Regions from separate parts of the Homo sapiens genome. Here region 2 is linked to region 1. Evidence: fine-mapped QTL for protein levels in blood plasma. A gene starts in region 1. The other region holds a variant in brackets. All regions are shown on one strand. Distances are between the middles of the regions.

Region 1 (9,068 bases):
CGATGTGTTGATGGGTCTGGAGCTTGGGAAGGAAACCTGGGCTGGACACTGAGTTTGGTTTGGGGCCCCTCCGTGGAATGGGTGTGGGAAGCCTCAGGGCATGGCTGAGTGTACCCAGGGAAAGTGAGGGCCAAGACGGGCACATGCCTTAAAGGAGGAGGACCCTGCAAGGAGACAGAGGCAGCAGACAGAGGGAGGAGGAGGGCTGCTGTGAGAGGCGGCTGGAAGCCCAGGGCATGGAGACCTGCAAGAGGGGATGATCAGCAGGGTCAGGTGTCAGAGAGGGTTCCCCCAAGATAAGGACTGAGAAGTCCTCATTTATCATCTTGGGGACATTAGCAAGAGCACCTTCAGTGTATCCTGGGAGGGAAAGGAGACCCTGAAAATCTGGGCACTTTGAGGATACTGAATGAGAAGAGAGGGGAGAGATTGGACAGTGGCTAACGGGTGCATGGGACTCCGCTGAGCCAAGTGGTCTCACCCTGTGTCTGCTGTGCTCCAGCTCCAGCCCCAGCCCCTCCCAGAGGCCCCCAAAAGACTAGCTGTGGCTGTTGCCACGCTCAGAAAGCAGACCTGGTGGCCAAGCAGGGCCCCGCCCTTCTCTGTCTGTGGCTGCTGCACTCAGAAAAGAGGAAAAGGTATACATGGGGAAGCCAGGGCTCCCCCAGCCTGGAAGGCTGACCTGTTGCCAAATTCCAGCTGCCAGGATCCCCCCAACCTCAGCGGGCTAACCGGAAGGGAGGCCACCCTGCCAAATGCTGCAGGTGCTGGGGGCACAGGTCCAAGGCAGGTCCAAGCCTGCCAGCCCCAGACGTGGGAGGAGCCACCTGTGCCATCTGGGCGTGGGGGCAGGGGCTATGGCAGGCACGAGGAAGTTTATTCAATGAAAGTCAAAAATTGTTTTTTACATGACTAAAACCTGTTGCCTAAAACCTGTTTGTTCCTATTTTGAGTTTTGGCTGTATTTTAAAAATGAGTAATATTATAGCTTAATGATAAAAATAGCCATCACTCAAATTGACTGAACATACCTGTGTGCCAGGCACTATTCTTGGCCTTTCATATAAAGTACTTAATCCTCCTAATATCCCAGTGAGGTAGGTGCTATTACTATCCCCATTTTACAGGCGAGAAAACTAAGACTTCCCTTCATTGCATACTTTCACCTTTTTCCTGATTATTTTCCTGCTCTTGGTTCTCTCATCCTAGAAATCCCCCAGAGCTGGAGTCGGGGAAGAGGTGGGTATGGGCCCGGCTTTTCTCCTGCCTCTGCCACCTCTCTTAGGACGTTTCTGAGCTGAGTTTTCTCATCCGTAAGGTGAGGGGTTGGCTGCAATGGCTGACTGGCTGCACTCTGACACCCTGTGGGGAGGGTGCTGACACCAGTACAGACGTCCTGGAGGGCTGTCAGACCACGACATCCTCAGCCTTGTGAGTGGGCATCACCAGTGCTGCTTGCCCAGGATTTAACTTAAAAAGCCCCGGGAGTAAGGGGTCCCTGCATTTACTCCCCGCCTCTCTCCTCCCTCCAACTTGCCTGCTGCACTCCACCTGGGTGGAGGTAGCAGAGGGGGCAGCGCGGGCTTTGGCCTCTTTCTCTCTCTTCCTTCCACAGATCTGATTTTGTTGCTTAACCCCCTTCCTTGTGGTCTGGAAGTCAGGCCATGGCTGGGGTAGTGAATGTGTCCCGGATGTTTGTCCTGCCCAGTCTGTCTGCCTTGCACTTCTGGGAGCCCCAAATTCATTCTTACAGGGAGGAAGGTGGCCATGGGACTCCAGGGGGGAAATGACTGGCCCAGGGTCACATGAGAGCCAAGAGTGGGTTCCCCCATGCTGGACCCCTTGTGTCTGACCCCAAGCCTGAGTCAGGAAAGCCTGGAAAAGTGAGTGGAGGAGGAGGAGCTCGGGGGGCCCTGTTCTCCATTCAGCCCCCACCCAAGAGCTGTGGGCTTCCAGGTGTGTGAGGCTGGGCGCCTGGCACCTGAGCTCCTGCGGTTTGGGTCATAGTCTGAGCCAGAGTGGGAGATTCAGGGTAGGGAGGTGGTGAGGGGCACCCAGGTTTGTCTTATAGGGCACTCTGTTCCCGGCTCTGTGTAATGAGGGGAGGACCCCAAGTCCTTTGGACAGCGCATCCATCTCCTGGCCATAAAGTGTGAGCGTGGAGCTGGGCTGATTTGGGGGTGTCCGGAAGAAGGAAATGAAAGGGACATTTAATGAGGTCCTAGTACGTGCCAAGCATTTTCACACACCTACATTTGATTCAATTTCCACTACAAGTGGACACTGTTATACCTATTTTACAGACACAGAAACTGAGGCTCAGAGAGGTGCCTGGAGACGGAAAAGGGTGGGGAGCGAATCTTTCTGGCGCGCCCTCTGTGCCTCAGTCACCGTGCCAGACGCCTGCCCGCGTTCCCTATCGAAATCCCCCCGCCTCGCCAGCGAGGAAGGCGCGATCGTCCCCGGAACACAGACGGGAGACCGGAGGCTCGGGGACCGCCGGACGACCGCGGCCGGGCGGCCCCTCACACCACCCGGGCGGCTCCCCCGACGGCGCGCGGCGCTCACCTCCAGGCGGTCGATGCGGTCCCGCAGGGCGCGCACGGCGTCCTCCAGCTCCAGAATGAGCGCAGGCGAGTCCCAGGGCCCGTCGGCCATGGTGTCGCGGCGGGGCCCGGCGCCCTGGAGGCCGCGCGGCAGGCCGCTCTCGCAGCGGCCCAGCTTGCCGGTGAGCTCACGGATGGTGTCCTGGTCGGCGCGGATGCGCGCCTCCTGCTGCAGCGCCGTCTGGCGCAGCTGCTCGGCCGTGCTCTGCAGCAGCAGCAGCTCTTCGCGCTCGCCCGGCGCAGCGCCCGCCGCGTCCCCCTGCTGGGCCCCCGACGGGCAGGCAGCAGCCAGCGGCGTGCACAGGAAGCGGCTGAACAGGGGCCCGGGCGGCAGCGGGTGCGCGCTGGCCGCGGGTGCCCCGGGCAGCGCGGGGGGCCCGGCTGAACCGCCCGCGCCGTGCAGCGCGCTCAGGCTCCGCTGCGGGCCCGGGGACGCGGCGGCGCCCGAGGCGACCGAAGCATTGTCGGCGCCGCCGGGCAGCGCCCGCGCCGGGCTGGCCGCCAGGGGCACGCTGGCGATGATGCAGATGACGGCACCGAGGAACGCCAGCATGCCCGCGGCCAGCAGCACGGCCAGGAACTTCAGCGTGAGGCGGGCGGCGGGGGCGCCCGAGGCCCCCGGCAGGCGCGGCGGCGGGGTCGGGGCGCGGAGCCCGGGCGCGCTGGGCCGAGCGGGGCAGGCGCGGGAGCCGGAGCCGGAGCCGGAGCCGGAGCCGGAGCTGGAGCTGTCGCCGCGGCCGCTGCTGCCGCCGCTCTGAGCCCGGGCGGCGGGAGGAGGAGAAGACGGCAGGCGGCGGGGAGGGGGAGCGGGCGCGGCGGCCCCGCCCCACTCGCTTCCCCGGGCCGGCCCTGGCCCCGGCCCAGCCCCGCACCCGTTCAGTGCCGGGCGCCCGGCTGGGGGCGCCGCCGGGGATGCGGCGAGGAGCGAGGGCAGCGCCTGGGACCTTATCTCGCCGCGGTCACAGCGCAGGGGCCGGCGACCCGAGGGCCGCGCGGCGGGGCTCCTGGGTGACCCCCATCCCAGCCCTCCCGTGCTCGGGCCCCCTCCCCAAGCCGGTTATGTTCACATCCACCCGGGAGGGAGCTTTCTTCCGGGTGGGGCTGTGCACTGGGCGCGCCACAAGCTCGGTCGCAATTGAGCCTTGCCGTGGACAGGCTCACAATAGAAATGAGGAAACTGAGACACCTGAGGTCAGGCCTCTGTCCAAGGTCACCGGGTGGCTGCGTTGGAGCCGCCTGCGAGCTTAGGCACGTTTCACCGGACCAGACTGTGGATGGGGCTGGAGTGGGAGCGGTTAGAGGTGGAGAAGAGGCCAGTGTTGGGGGTTGGGGGGAGGCTCGGATTTTGACCTAACTTCTGTTTATACTGTGGCCACCTGCCCGTCACCCCCACCTCCAACCTTCTGAAGGAGCAGAGTTCACTCCCCGCCACCCTCATTACAGAATCTTCCTGTGATCTCAGAGGATGATGGAAATTCTCTCCTCTGAATCCTTGGGGGCTTAGAGCCTCACAGGTCCAGAGAAACCCCCCACCCCCACTGCAGTCTGCCTTCGTTGGCAAGCGGTGCCACGTGCCTGGTGGGCATGTGGACCAGGCCCAGAAGGAACAGCAGGAATGGGAGTGGGCTGTGCTGTGGGGGTGGCAGAGGAGCGTTTTACTTTCTTCTGTCAAAAATGTCTATATATATTTTGTTGAAAATTAACTTTGCAATTAAAAACTTAAAAACAATCCTACTATCCTCCACACTTTATCCCCAGCTCCAATTTTCCATGAGGTCTTTCCTGACCAATACGGATTCCCAGGGCTGGAAGGGCCTTGGGAGGGCTGTGGTTATTCCCAGCTCTGTCTCCCTTCCAAGCCTGCATTTTTGACTTGAAGGGAAAGCGCAAACCAGGATCTCTGGACCACCACGGCTACCACTGTGGTTTCGAGTGTACTTCACATAGCGCTGGTGGTGGGGAGAGACCGGAATGTTTCCCAGGAAGCCACAACCCTGGGGGACGCTCTCCAGCCACGGGGATTTTGTCCAGTGTTCCCAGGCACACGTGCTCCACCTCCCTCTCTCCACACATGTTAGGATGATGTCCACCCTGTTCACCCATCTCTAGGAGCCAGGGATTTTCATCCATACCTGAGTTGTGAAAGAGGAGAGAAGCAAACACAAGCGCTGTATGCCAGGAACCTGAGTGCTGTGTGTGCGTGGATGTGTGCTGGTGCTCACTGAAGTCGTAACCTCAAAACCCAGGGCAGGCAGCTGGGCTTGGAGGAAGCATCTCATGGACAGAGAGATGGGCTGGGCTCTTGGAAGGCAAAGGCCAGCGGTAGGCCCTGCTAAAGTCCTGGGGATGCATGAGACATCGGGACTCCTGGTACATCTACACGTGTGCCGTGAAGACAGAAACACGGAGATAGCATCCCCAGGAGAAACTGTCATAGGAAGTCCAGGGAAGGACAGGAGATGCCAAGAGAGAGGGCTGCTGCCAAGAGCAGCAGAGCCACTGTGACTTGGGCACCAAATGGTGCCACCTTTACCTGAGCTGCCCCCTGAGACTTTGGGGACAGTTTGGATAAATGGGTCCAGAGGCTGGAGTCAAATTGTGTTTAAACTGGTCTGTTGATCTCCTAGAATGACTTTATTTTTTATTTTATTTTATTTTTGAGACAGAGTCTTGCTCTGTCACCCAGGCTGCAGTGCGGTGGCGTGATCTCGGCTCACTGGAACCTCTGCCTTGCGGGTTCAAGCAATTCTCCTGCCTCAGTCTCCCAAGTAGCTGGGACTACAGGTGCACGCCACCACGCCCAGCTAATTTTTGTATTTTTAGTAGAGATGGAGTTTCAATATGTTGGCCAGGCTGGTCTTGAACTCCTGACCTCAGGTGATCCACCTGCCTCGGCCTCCCAAAGTGCTGGGATTACAGGCGTGAGCCATGGCGCCCAGCCTCTCCCTTCTTCCTTGGCCCATCTCTATCCCCAGCATTCAGCATGAAGCCTGCCCAGGGAAGCTTCTCGGTGAATGTTTGCTGAACTAGTTCCTAATGCCACTGCTGGAGGCAGAGGAAGGAGGAGAGGACAGAGAAGTCCCAAAACTCGTCTCTCCTGGGTCCTGGGAGAGACCCCCCTTAATCCTAACACAGGATTCCTCAAGGGATGGGCAGAGAAGTATTCTCAGGGGAACTTCCCTAAAACTGGAATAGTTCCTATATTTTCCCTCTGAATTGTCATGACTCCTAGTTTTTTTTTTTTTAAATTTCTTCACTTTCATTCCATTCTTAGGCCAAGGGAATTCTGCCATATATAACAAATATAGGAATTCATTTTAGAAAATATGTTTTGAGACCTACATTGTGCCAGGCATAGTGCCAAGCATTGGAGAGAGCTGGGAACAAGACAAGCTCACGCAGTTTATATTCCAGTGGGGAGGCAGGCAGTAAACAAATGAATAACTAAGTAAACAAGTTAATTTCCAATAATGATGAGAATGACAAAGAAAAATCTTCAAGTGATGTTATAGAAAGTTACAGGAAGTAGGAAGGGGGAATTGGGAGGTGGGCAGTATTTATAAGGTGGTCAGAAAAGGCCTGCATTGGAGCTCAGACCTAAATGACCTGGGAAACCAGCCATGCAGAAGTCTGGGGAAAGATGGTGTGTTCTAGGCAGAGGGAACCGCTAGTGCAAAGGCCCTGGGGCAGAAAGGAGCGTAATATATTTCAGGAACAGAAGGAACAGAGTGGGGCTAGAGGCAGAGTGAGATGTAGGGGAGGGAGGAAGCTGGACAGGAAGGTGGGGGCCGTGTAGAGATTTACAGGCTCCGGGAAGGGAGTGGGTCTGACTCGAAGCCCAACTGGAGGGCTGAAGCACGGAAGTGATATCACCTGGACTGTGTTTTTAAAAGACCACTCTGGCAGTTGTCTGGAGACTGGGTTACAAAGAGATAACAGAGGGCCGGGAGCGGTGACTCATGCCTGTAATCCCAGCACTTTGGGAGGCCAAGGCGGGTGGATCGTTTGAGGTCAGGAGTTCTAGGCCAGCCTGGCCAACATGGTGAAACCCCGTCTCTACTAAAAATACAAAAATTAGCCAGGTGGTAGTGGTGCGCGCCTGTAATCCCAGCTATTCGGGAGGCTGGGCAAGAGAATCACTTGAGCCTGGGAGGCGGAGGTTGCGGTGAGCCGAGATCACGCCACTGCACTGCAGTCTGGGCGACAGAGACCCTGTCTCAAAAACAAAAACAAACAAACAAAACAAGAGGAAGTAGGGGGGTTACAATTGGAGGGCTATGCCTCCCTCCAGGTGCTTCTCCAAGTAATGGTGACTTGGAATTGGTGGTGGTGGAGAGACGTGGATGAATCTGTTTTACAGGTAGTGTTTGTCAGTTGGGTCCTCCAGGAAGCGGACACTGAGATGGGGTTGGAAGTGCAAGTGCTTTATTGGGGGTGATGTCCTGTGAAAGATAAGAGGGCCAGAAACAGAATCGGGCAGGGAGAACCTCTGACTTCGGTGCTGATCTAACAAAGTGTTGGCCACCCCGACAGGGAGCTCTGGGGCCGAGACTGCCCACGAGGGAGTTTTTGCATCAGGCACAAATGGCCTGTCTCTATGGTGCCCTTTTCACCCTGAGTCATTGGCTGGAAGTTGCCCCAGAAGAGCAAGGCTTCAGCTCAGAAGCTGAGGTGGATCATGAAGTTGGAGAGCGTCTGCTAACTGCCTCACCTGCTGCTGAGTGGCAAAGTTGTTGTTGAATGGAGAGCTAAGGGGGCCCCTCCCTGGCTGCCATGGTCCATTCCTTACACCAAGGTCCAGTTCTCCATACACGGTCAGGAGTAGTCCCTCCAAGGTGCCCGTGGCCTCTCTTCCTTAGGGACACCTGGAAGGGGGAGGTTAGTGGGAAGAACACCAGTGTCCGCTACTGCAGTTGGCCTCAGGCTGCAAGAGGCATCATGGATTCTTCCCCTGTCCATCTAATCATTCTCCCAGTCATTGTCTCTGCTGATAAAAGGGGAAAGAACATTCTTTCATTCCCCGGAGCCTAGGAAAGCCCGTGGTATTTTCTCAATAATGTTTTTTGAGGCCAGGCATGGTGGCTCACACCTGTAATCCCAGCACTTTGGGAGGCGAAGGCAGGAGAATGTCTTGAGCCCAGGAGTTCAAGACCAGCCCAGGCAACATGGTGAAACCCCGTCTCTGCAAAAAATACAAAAATTACCTGGGTGTGGTGGCACGCACCGGTAGTCCCAGCTACTTGAAAGACCGAGGCAAGAGGATCTCTAGTCCAAGGGGTCGGGGCTGCAGTAAGTTGTGATTGTGCCACTGTACTCCAGCCTGGGTGACAGAGTGAGATGCCGTCTCAATACAAAAATAAAAATAAAAGTTTTTTGAACTGAGATACACTTTTAAAAGGGGGGAGGAGGGAGAAAGAGGAATTGCACAGGGAAGGCCTTTAGACTGTAATAAAGTCATTTCTAAAAGATGGGTGATTGGATGCTAATTAGGTAACTGGCGGTTTCACCAGGCACATGGCAGAGCCAGGATTTGAACACAGGCTTAGGGTGACGAACTCATCCCATCTGGCCTGGAATTTTCCCAGTGTCAGCACTGAAATGCTAGCATCCTGGGAAACCTCTCAGTCCTGGGCAAACACGGACAGTTGGTCACCCTGGCTATCTTCAAACCCATTCTCCCACCACACTGTCTCAGTGCTGGTATGTATCACATAGCAATGAAACACACACGTCTTTCTCTTCCCTCGACCTCCATCCTTCCCTCTCCTCTAGCATCTCCCTCTTTCCCTGCTGCCTGCACACTGTGAGCTCCTCGAGGGCAGGGACCAGCTGCAGCACCCTCCTCTCTGTGACTCCAGGGCTGGCACTCGTGGGTGCTCAAACTCCCAGTGAAGGAGTTTGGGCAGATGGGTGGGATTACAGATGTGAGCCACCGCGCCCGGCCTCAAAAAACATTTATTGAGAAAACGTGTGGTACCTTTTGGGGTGTGCTTGTGAACAAAGAGTTCTTTTCCCCAGGGGGGTTGGTAAAGAGATTGGGGACAAAGAGAGTGTCTGTGTCCATCCTGAAGTCTCCATCTAGGTCCGGTCTCAAGACCTGAGCTGCCTCAGTCTCCTCACCTGTAAGGTGGAGCCAGTGGTACCTATGTATAGGATTGTAATGGGAAGGAAATGAGGGCAGGTGAGATGTGTGTAAAATCTCTCCCAGGGACTCAAGACAGGGACCATTTCCTACCATGCTACTGTGTGTTATCAGGGCAAGGCTCGGTACTTGCTATGCCTTCCTTATTTATTCCTAGCATATACTAGGTGCTCAATAAATGTTCCTTCCCTTCTTGACGCCTTTGCCTTTGATTCCCCGGCTGCCTACAGTGCTTACTCCCTAGTTGCTGTGCCCTTTCTTGATTCCCGTCCCGCCCCCGTTCTGAGCGGAGTTGGGGAATCATTCAGATGAAGGATCAT
Region 2 (9,068 bases), 17 kb before region 1:
ACTCCTGTCTCCTCTTTCCTCAAAGACCAAACCAGATCACAAGGGACTCTCTGGTTTTGGTTTTCAGTTGTCACAAGGTAGTTCACTCACTCTCCAACAGGCCTATTAAGGTCACTTGGGGAGAGAGGGATGTCTCATAATCCCAACTTCCCCTGAACACCTCACACAGCACTCAGCACACAGCTAGGGCTCAAGAAGTACTGGCAGGGATAGAATGAGCCTTGGACTCAGAGGCCAGGCTCCAGCATCTGGCCCTGGCTCTGCCACCAACCCCTGTGTGATCTGGGGAGGCTGCTCCTTCCTCCCTGGGCCTCAGTTTCCTTATCTGTAAAGTGAGGTCAGACAAGGGATGACAAGTCTGCAAGGGATGGCAAATCTTCCTCCACCCAGGGCAGACATAGCCAATCAATCACGAGCCTCGATTTAGCTCAGATCCCTCAGCACAGTGCTCTGGAAAGCCACTGCTGATGGGTTAGAGCTGGCCTGTAAGATGAAAGGTGCTTGCTGTCTGTGGATTTGGTGCTCCCAAAGGGCTTCCTCATCTGGTAAGTTTCCTGAGGTCACATTTTTTTTTTTGAGATGGAATTTCACTATGTTGCCCAGGATAGAGTGCAGTGGTGTGATCTCAGCTCACCACAGCCTCCATCTCCTGGTTCAAGCAATTCTCCTCCCTCAGCCTCCCAAGTAGCTGGGATTACAGGCGTGCACCACCATGCCCAGCTATTTTTTTTTTTTTTTTTTTGTATTTTTAGTAGAAACGGCGGGATTTCACCATATTGGCCAGCCTGGTCTTGAACTCCTGACCTCAGATGATCCACCCACCTCAGCCTCTCAGAGTGCTGGGATTACAGGCAAGAGCCACCTTACCCAGCCTGAGATCACAATTTAATGTAACATTCTCTGAGGCCTACGTGGTGCCTGGCCTTGTTGTGGATCCTGGGGATGTGGAGCTGGTCCACGCCTTAAATGAGCTGAGTCTGCAGGAGGGGAAGGACTTTGGGGCAATGCTATAAGACAAAATAACGGAGGGCATATGGGAGGTACAGAGGCTGCGAGGCCCAGAGGTAGAGGGGATATGGGAACAGAAGCCACGTCAAAACCCGTCTGGAAGGACAATGGATCCACCATTCCATTGCTAGGCAAAACAAGTGGTGGGCACAGAAGGAGTAAAGGCTTAGAGGCTGGAATAAAAAGGGAACAGTGAGCAGTCTGTTAGGCTGGCTCTCAAAAGGACTCTAGAGCGTCCCAGAACAGGGCTGCCCAATGCCCTGTCCAGGGTGCTGAATTCCTTCTAATGAGAACTGAGTGCTGAACTTGGGCCAGGCCAAGGACGGCAGCCAGGGGGTGATGAAGGGCACAAGGCAGCAGGATCTAGATGTAGTCCAGCCACCCCGGTGGTCGTAGGGTTTATTGGGCCACAAGGGAAAGTCACTGGTCCCTGGACTCATCTCCTCCCTCCTCCTCCTCCCCCTCCAGAATGCCATGAAATGCACCTTCTGCTAAGCTGGGTCTGATGGGTATCAATCACTCCTAGTGGCTTTATGTGTTGTGGGCTGGTCACAGGTGGGTACGATATGTGGTATCTGCATTTCCAGGGGGGTCTCAATAGACCACCATGCCTGCAAGGCCCAAAACAATGTGGCAGGTTGGGGAGGAGCTTTAGGAGTGGATGACAGTGATGAGATGCTCCCCTTCCTCTCCCCTCAATTACCATGCTCCTGCCACATCATTCTCCCTGCCTTGTCCTTGTCCTGCCTTCCAGCCAGGCTGAAGGAGGGGCATCGGGGAGGGAGGCCTGGGCATGAGGAAGATGGGTGGCCCAAGGGCAGAACAGGGGAGGGGTTAAAAGGTGGTTTCCGGAGCCCAAGACCCTGAATCACATCACACCCCAGCAGCTGTGTGGCCAGGGTGCATTACTTCCCCTCTCTGAGCCTCAGTTTCTCCATCTGCAAAATGGGGATAATGAGGGTACCTACTTCCCAGTGCTGTTGGGAAGGTCAAGGGTAATAATGTGAGTAAACTGCTTATTAGCACAGTGCCCAGTATAATAAAAATAGCTCACAGTTATTGATGTCTGCTAAACGCTAGGATCTGCTCAAAGCCCTCTACATGCATTTAAGCCACTTCTCACTACAACCCTAAGAGACAAGAGTTCTTATCATTCCTGCTTTAGAGATAAGCAAACTGAGGCACAGGGCAAGTAGAAGACTAGTCTGAGGTCACACAATGGTGAAGATGCAGAACCAAGACTCAAACCAGCATTTGGGTCCCAGAGCCTGAGCACAACACCTTTCTACTCTCCATAGCGGGGAGGGCCCGAGGGGCTGGCTCCAGGGAAGTAGAAGGAACGAGGAGGCCACAAGCACTCCCTTCCTCCCTCCATCCCCAGGTAGGTCTGTGCACCTCCCTTCTCTCTCTCTCTTTTTTTTTTTTTTTTTTTTGACACAGAGTCTTCCTCTGTCGCCCAGGCTGGAGTGCAGTGGTGCGATCTTAGCTCACTGCAAGCTCTGCCTCTCGGGTTCTGGCCATTCTCCTGCCTCAGCCTCCCGAGTAGCTGGGACTACAGGTGCCCACCACCACACCCGGCTAATTTTTTTGTATTTTTAGTAGAGATGGGGTTTCACCATGTTAGCCAGGATGGTCTCAATCTCCTGACCTCGTGATCCGCCCGCCTCGGCCTCCCAAAGTGCTGGGATTACAGGCATGAGCCAGTGCGCCCGGCCACCTCCCTTCTCTTTAAGTCCAGGATGATGAGCAGGGCCCTGGGGGCAGACACCTCAGCCCTGTCCCATAGCTGGGTCACTGGGGAAGTCACTGGATCCCCAAGAGCTTCACTTGCCTCCTCTGTAAAATGGAACAACACTTAGAGCCTCTATTGGACACAGCCTCTCTTCCGGCAGCTCCATGTCTGGCTTGTCTTTATATTCCCAGAGCCCAGCCTAGCACACGGTAGGTACTTAATGTGTGCTGAATATGCAGAGCAGGAGAATGAGCAGGAGAATGAAAGAGCCCAGTGTGGAGTGGGTGCTTCTGGAAGGGTGGCCCTCCCCCAGCCAGCCCTCCCTGCCAGCCCTGCCTACCTTGTCGTTGATCAGCAGCTCCATGGGCTCATGGCCCGCCTCTAGCAGTACAATCTCGTTGGCCTGCCCGGGCACTGAGTAGGAGAAGGGGGTGCCCTGGCCGGTGCCGCTGGACCTGGACC[G/A]CAGCCACATGCAGGCGGTGAATGCGTAGAGCTCGGGCAGAGCCTTCCGCACGCGGGCGTACATGTAGTTGTTACGGATGGGGATGCTGATCTTGAAGGCATCTGGAGGACTGTAGGCTGAGGACCCTGAGGGTGGGCAAGGCAGACATGGTGGAGGTCGGTGGACACCGAAAAGGGTGGGGTGGACAGGGCACACTTCAGAAAGATGGCTAACAGCTCCCAGGCACCTGCTGCATGCCCAGTGCCTTCAGGGCTCTCTCTGCTCCACCTCTGTGTTGAGGGGTGTGATTAAAGTGCAGGGGCTCTGGACCTTAGATGTCCTGAGACCAAATCTCGTCTCCCCCACTTCCCAGCCACGTGACCGTCAACAAATTAAACTTGTTGGGAGACCCGGGGTAGACAGGCCAGAGGCAGGGCTGAGGAGGGCTGGAGGTTGCTTCTCCTGTTCCTGTGCTCCACCTAGGATGCTGGCCCTGAGCCACCAGACCTGTCCCTCCCCTGCAGCTGTGCCCCTGCGATGGCCCCTCCATTCTGAAATTTGCTCCTCACCACTGTTTTCAAGAAGTAGCTTGAGGCCTGCCTCCTCCAGGAAGCAGCTTGGATATTCTTTCTTTTCTTTTCTTTTTCTTTTTTTCTTTCTTTTTTTTTTTTTTTTTGAGACGGAGTTTCCCTCTGTTGCCCAGCTCACTGCGACCTTCACCTCCCAGGCTCAAGCAATTCTCCTGCCCCAGCCTCCCGAGTAGCTGGGATTACAGGTATGCACCACCACACCCAGCTAATTTTTGCATTTTTAGTAGAAATGGGGTTTTGCCATGATGGGCAGGCTGGCCTTGAACTCCTGACCTCAGGTGATCCGCCCACCTCAACCTCCCAAAGTGTCGGGATAACAGGCATGAGCCACCATGCCTGGGCCTGGATTTTCTTCTCCTGAACCCCTGTTCCCCATGTAAGCTGGTCCCAGCTAACTGCTCACCATTTCTCCTGTTCTCCCCAACTTGTCTGTAAGCCTCTTAAGGGTGGTCTTCACAAGAATTGAAAGCTGAAAGGTCTTTGAGAGCTCATGAGTCCTAAACCCCTATTTCTCAGATGAGGAAAACTGAGGCCTGGGGAAGGAAGTGAACTTCTGAGGTCACAGAGCAAGCCAGAGACAGATATGCAACCAGGAGCCAGGTCTCCTTATGCTTATACCTGTACCCTGCCCATTATGTTCCTTTGACCCCTTGGCAGTGCCAGGCACAAGTGTTAAACAAAATCCTGACCAAGTCATTGAAAATGCTATTTTGTGGGTGGTTAAATGTATGGTTGTGGAGTCAGACCTTGTTTGAGGTCCAGACCCGCCACTTTTGTCTGTGTGACCTTGAGCATGTCACTTGACTTCTCTGAGCTTCGGTCTTCTCATCTGTGAAAACTGTGGATTAAATCAGCTGATGTATCAAGTACTTAGCCCACTCCCAGGACACAGTAAGTGCCAGAAAATGAGATCTGTTAATAATGTTGATAATGATAACAATATCCCCCAATGATTCTCTCCACTGTGTGTTCCACAGCCTCCTCCCCACCCTCCAGTCTGTCGATGTTAGCCTCCGGGGAGCATGGATATATTTTTTGAATGGCTCTGTCATCCTGAGGACCCCTCCAATGCCCTCTGCAGGACCCAGGACCCACCGTGCTCCAGCTCAGCCACACGACCCTGCAGGACGTCCAACTCCTTTTCCACTTCCTGCCTCTGCCGGCGGCTGCTGTGGCTGAGGGCCACACGCTCCTTCTCCAGTGCCAGCACCTGGGCCAGCAGCTGCCCCTCCAGCTGGTCCATCTTGGAGTGTAGGCCGGTGGGCACAGCAGAGACTGGGGCTGGGGCAGCTGAGAGGTTCACACGGGCTGGAAGCTCCTGCTGTTCACAGGGCAGAGAAACAGAAATCAACTGAGGGGAGGAAGGACAGGCTGGGAACACTCAGATGCCTACCGCCCCTGCTCAGTGACCCCAGGGGAGCCTCAGCTTCCCCAGTATGCAAAATGGGAATGACAATGGCCAACATCAGGCAACAGATGCATCCTGGGTCCCTGGCAGGCTCTGTTCCTGGTGCTGGCACATGACGGCGAGCAGCAGGCAGAGCTGGCCCCGGCCCTCAAGGACAGCTCAGGCTGTGGTGGGGGTGTGGGGCGTGGCCATGAGTGCTGTGAAGGTCCCCCAGGTGGTTTCAGGGTGCAGCTGGGGCTGAACGCCCCACCCTAGTCCTTCATAGCAGCAAGGCTAGACACTGATAGGCTGGTAAAGGGGCGGACCATCTTAGTCTTCATTCCCTCACTCAGCAAGCTTCTCTAGAACGGTCCTTGGCAAAAGGCTCTGTATGGCCACTGGGCCCACTCAGGGCGTGAAACAGGGACTTCTGGAGCAGGGCCCCGGTGGCTTGACCATACCAGGGTGACAGGTGGTTGAAATCACATACTTTGGAGTCAGACAGCCCAGGGTTCAAAACCAGCTCGGTAACCAATCTGCTATGTGACTCTGAGAAAATATCCTGACTTCTCTGAACTTGTTTACTCAAAAGAGAGCTGCACCTATTTGGAGAGTTGTGGGGAGGACTAAGGATTAAATATCAATAAACAGAGCCTGCTTATTGCAATTGCTGTCTAGGGCAGGGTGTTCCAGGGTAGGCTCTGACATCCCCCATCCAGCCCGGGATGAGGTCTAAGTGTTCAGAGTTCCCCATGACATGCCTGTCTTATCTTAAGACCCCAAGGGCAGCAGAACTGGGGCAGGAGCTGGGAGGGTTTCCTTCCCCTTCTCCTGCTGGAAGAAGGCCCCTCTGGGGTGGAGGAACGCAGGTGAGGCCGCAGGTCCAGACTCTTCAAGGGGACAGTCTGTGGCAGACATGTCACAGAAATGTCAGTAGGAGATTAATAATTCAATGAGCTGCTAGGAGCTAAATTAAACCTTCACCATCCTCCACCATCCTCCTGGATTCCCCCTCCTCCATGGTCCCCGCTACCAGGCCTGATGCTTGCGAACTCCCCAGGGGCCTGGGAAGTTTTTGCTCAGTCAGTTCCTTGCTCCCAGGCTTAGGCCCCAGACACGAACTCATTGCATTCTGTGATTCAGTCACTGAGCAAACATTCAGAGGGCACCCCCATTGTGCTGGGCACTGCCCCAGATGCTGAAGTTGTGGCTGGAGGCAAAACAGAAAACCAAGAACCCCACCTTTCCTCAGTTTCCTAAGCTGCGAGGGGATGGCCTTGCAGCCTGGGACAAGTATAGAATCCCCTGTCCAGCCTCACTGGCCCAGCCAATGGCCTTGTCAGTCATTTGCTGGGTGACACTGGACACTGCTGGTGGCTGCTGTGACTGAGGGCCGCGTGTTCCTTCTGAGCTGTGCACTCCTCCTTAACTTCTCTGAGCCTGTTTTCTAGCCATGGGACAAGGGGAGAAGTGCGTCCCCTGCATCAGAGTGCTGGGGGCAAAGGACCACTGCCATGCTCAGTGCCCGAGACTTGGGAGCTGCCAGTGTGGACAGCAATGTGACCTCATTTTGAGGAGTTGCAGGAACCGGCCCTCGGCTCTGCCACTGCCCCGTGAGAGTAGGGACAGGTGGGCTGACACTCCGAGATCATTTTTCCCCTTCTATAAGATGGAGACACGGAATGCTCAGCCTCCAGGGCTGGCCAGCATTAAATGATGGCGTGTAAGGGAAGTGCCCAGAGCCTGGCCCACAGTGGGTGCCGGGGGCATGGTTTTGGGTGCATGGGGTAGGTGGGAAGACTGAATGGGACGCTCTTGCTGCCGGCTGAGCCTTAGCAGACACCTTGCAAACATTCCCTCTCTGAATCCACTTAACATGCCAGTGTCCCCATTTCAGGGGCAGGAAAACTAGGGTGAGTTAACTAAGATCACACCAGGAGCAGGAGCAGAGCTGGGATCTGAGCCTAGCAGTCTGGCTCGCCCGCCCCCTCTGCATCACTCGCCACGCAGCCTCTCTTGGCATCTGCCAAGCGGCCTCTCCAGAAGCCCTATTCCCTCTCTGTCCCACCTGTCCCTTGGCTCCCATGGGAAAGGTGAGGTTGCTTCACAGGGCAGGGGGTCTGGTGCCACTCACACTCAGCAACCCCCCTCTTCTGCTGGCAGTGGGAGGGGCTGAGGATCAACCTCTCCATTCCAGGCTGTAAGATGGGGCAACAGACACAAGTCACTGTGGTCGTCCAGGCTGGCTCTGGAAAGGGACCCATGAAAGCAGCGGGAGAGGGGGGACTCTGGCCACCATTATCCACCCCCCCCACCTCTTGTGTAAGAGGTCACGGCCTCCCAGCCACGCAGATGCCTACTTGGCCCACGAGGATGGGGTGGAGGCCAGGTGAAGGTGGGCATGGGATGGGCGAGGAGCCTTACAGTGCACTCCCCGCTTACATTCATCTTTGCTTTCCCGAGGGCTCCTTCTGTCAAGGTGCCTATAAACCCTGACTCTGGTGCAGACTAACCACAAAGCCTTGGTTTCCCCTCCTCTAAAACGGGAACAGGCTGGGCATGGTGGCTCATGTGTGTAATCCCAGCACTTTGGGAGGCCAAGACAGGCGCTTGAGCCCTGGAGTTCGAGACCAGCCTGGGCAACATGGCGAAACCCCATCTCTACAAGAAATACAAAGATTAGCCAGGCATGGTGGTGCATGCCTGTGGCCCCAGCCACTTGGGTGGCTGAGGCAGGAGGATTGCTTAAGCCCAGGAGGTTGAGGCTGCGGTGAGTCATGATCATACCACTGCACTCCAGCCTGAGCAACAGAGCGAGACAAAAAAAAGTGTGTGTGGGGTGAAACAGACTTCCTCTTGTTCATTCCCAGGACAGATGGAAGGATGGGAGGACAAGTGACAGGCCCTCATGGACTATAAAAGCATAATGCCAACTGTGGGGCTTGACTACATTAGCTGATGGGGCGCTCATTACCTCCAGAGCCTTCAGGTGACACTGGATGGCCCACAGGGTGACAGGGTCAGCCACCCACTGCATTCGAGATGGCTGGACTTCCAGGAAGCCTTGGACTGAGGCAATCAGCTCAAGGGGCGCATTTCATCTCAGGGCTGGAAGGGCGGGCTGGGGCAGGGTGTCCCTGGTCCCAGGTACTGTTCTGTCCTCAGTTCTCCACCCGCTCTGTGCCAAGCTTGAGGCCAGAGGGGCATGCGGGAGTGAGGCTGTGCACCGGGCCCATCATAGGCACTTGGCATGTGTTTACTCATGAATCCTCGCAGCTGCTCGCTGAGGCTGGCACTCTTCGTATCCCCATTTCACAGATGGGAAACCAAGGCAGGAGTCGTTTTGAATTGTCTATAGCAATGGGGCTGGGCCAAACCGATACCCCTGGAGCCAGCATCTCCTCTCTCCAGCAAAGGGAGAGAGGGAGGAAGACTTGCCAGGAAGAACAGAGGGAGGAAGATCTGCCAGCAAGAACAGGGAGTCGAGGCTATTTAAACAGACGCTGTTTGGAGGAGAAAACGTGCGGGCTGAGGGGGTGTGCGCTCAAGCTGTTCTTTTGTCAGAGCCACTGGCTCTGCAGCGGCCAGGAAGGCCATGGAGGAGGTGGGCTCGCCGGATCGTGTGTGAGTCCCTCCCCGTCCCAGTGTCTGAATCAGAAGAACACGACTCCCGCACCCCCACTTCCCATCTGCTGTGGGCGCAGGCTGTGCCGCGTGGGCTCCCGGCCCGATGCCAACTGGGCCCCTCACCTAAGATGATGGAGGGAATGATGACGCCAGCACCCCCACTCAGCTCCTGCTGGGGCAGAAAGGTGGAGGCTGGGAACCCATGGCCTGTCCCGCTGGGAGTCCGGGGTGGGGTTTGGCGTAAGTGTGCTGGGCCTAGAGCCAGAGCCCCTTGTTCTAGGC

Which allele goes with the higher level. Positions count from the first base shown, and alleles are read on the strand shown. Strength reflects both the effect of a copy and how common the allele is.
In carriers of allele G in region 2, the plasma level of the protein whose gene starts at base 3,362 in region 1 tends to be higher than with A alone (moderate association).

The links. PIP is the posterior inclusion probability: the model's chance that the variant is causal. The UK Biobank Pharma Proteomics Project read protein levels with antibody pairs (Olink). The fine-mapping took linkage between variants from a reference panel, not from the people measured, so its PIPs are less certain.
Region 2: its variant is fine-mapped to the plasma level of the NPTXR protein (UK Biobank, PIP above 0.99). The variant lies in the coding sequence of NPTXR. If it changes the protein, the assay may bind it differently, which can mimic a change of level.

Annotation. Positions count from the first base shown.
Region 1 is chr22:38,840,667-38,849,734 of GRCh38, forward strand. It overlaps NPTXR (neuronal pentraxin receptor), which reads right to left and starts at 3,362. Exons shown (of 5, transcript NM_014293.4): 1 at 2,569-3,362. The coding sequence starts at 3,192. RefSeq lists a silencer at 2,881-2,950.
Region 2 is chr22:38,823,420-38,832,487 of GRCh38, forward strand. NPTXR (neuronal pentraxin receptor) reads right to left here. Exons shown (of 5, transcript NM_014293.4): 2 at 4,868-5,093; 3 at 3,081-3,328. Among named protein-coding and RNA genes, the nearest start is that of NPTXR, 16 kb to the right of the region's middle. The variant G/A (reference allele first, on the strand shown) is at 3,203.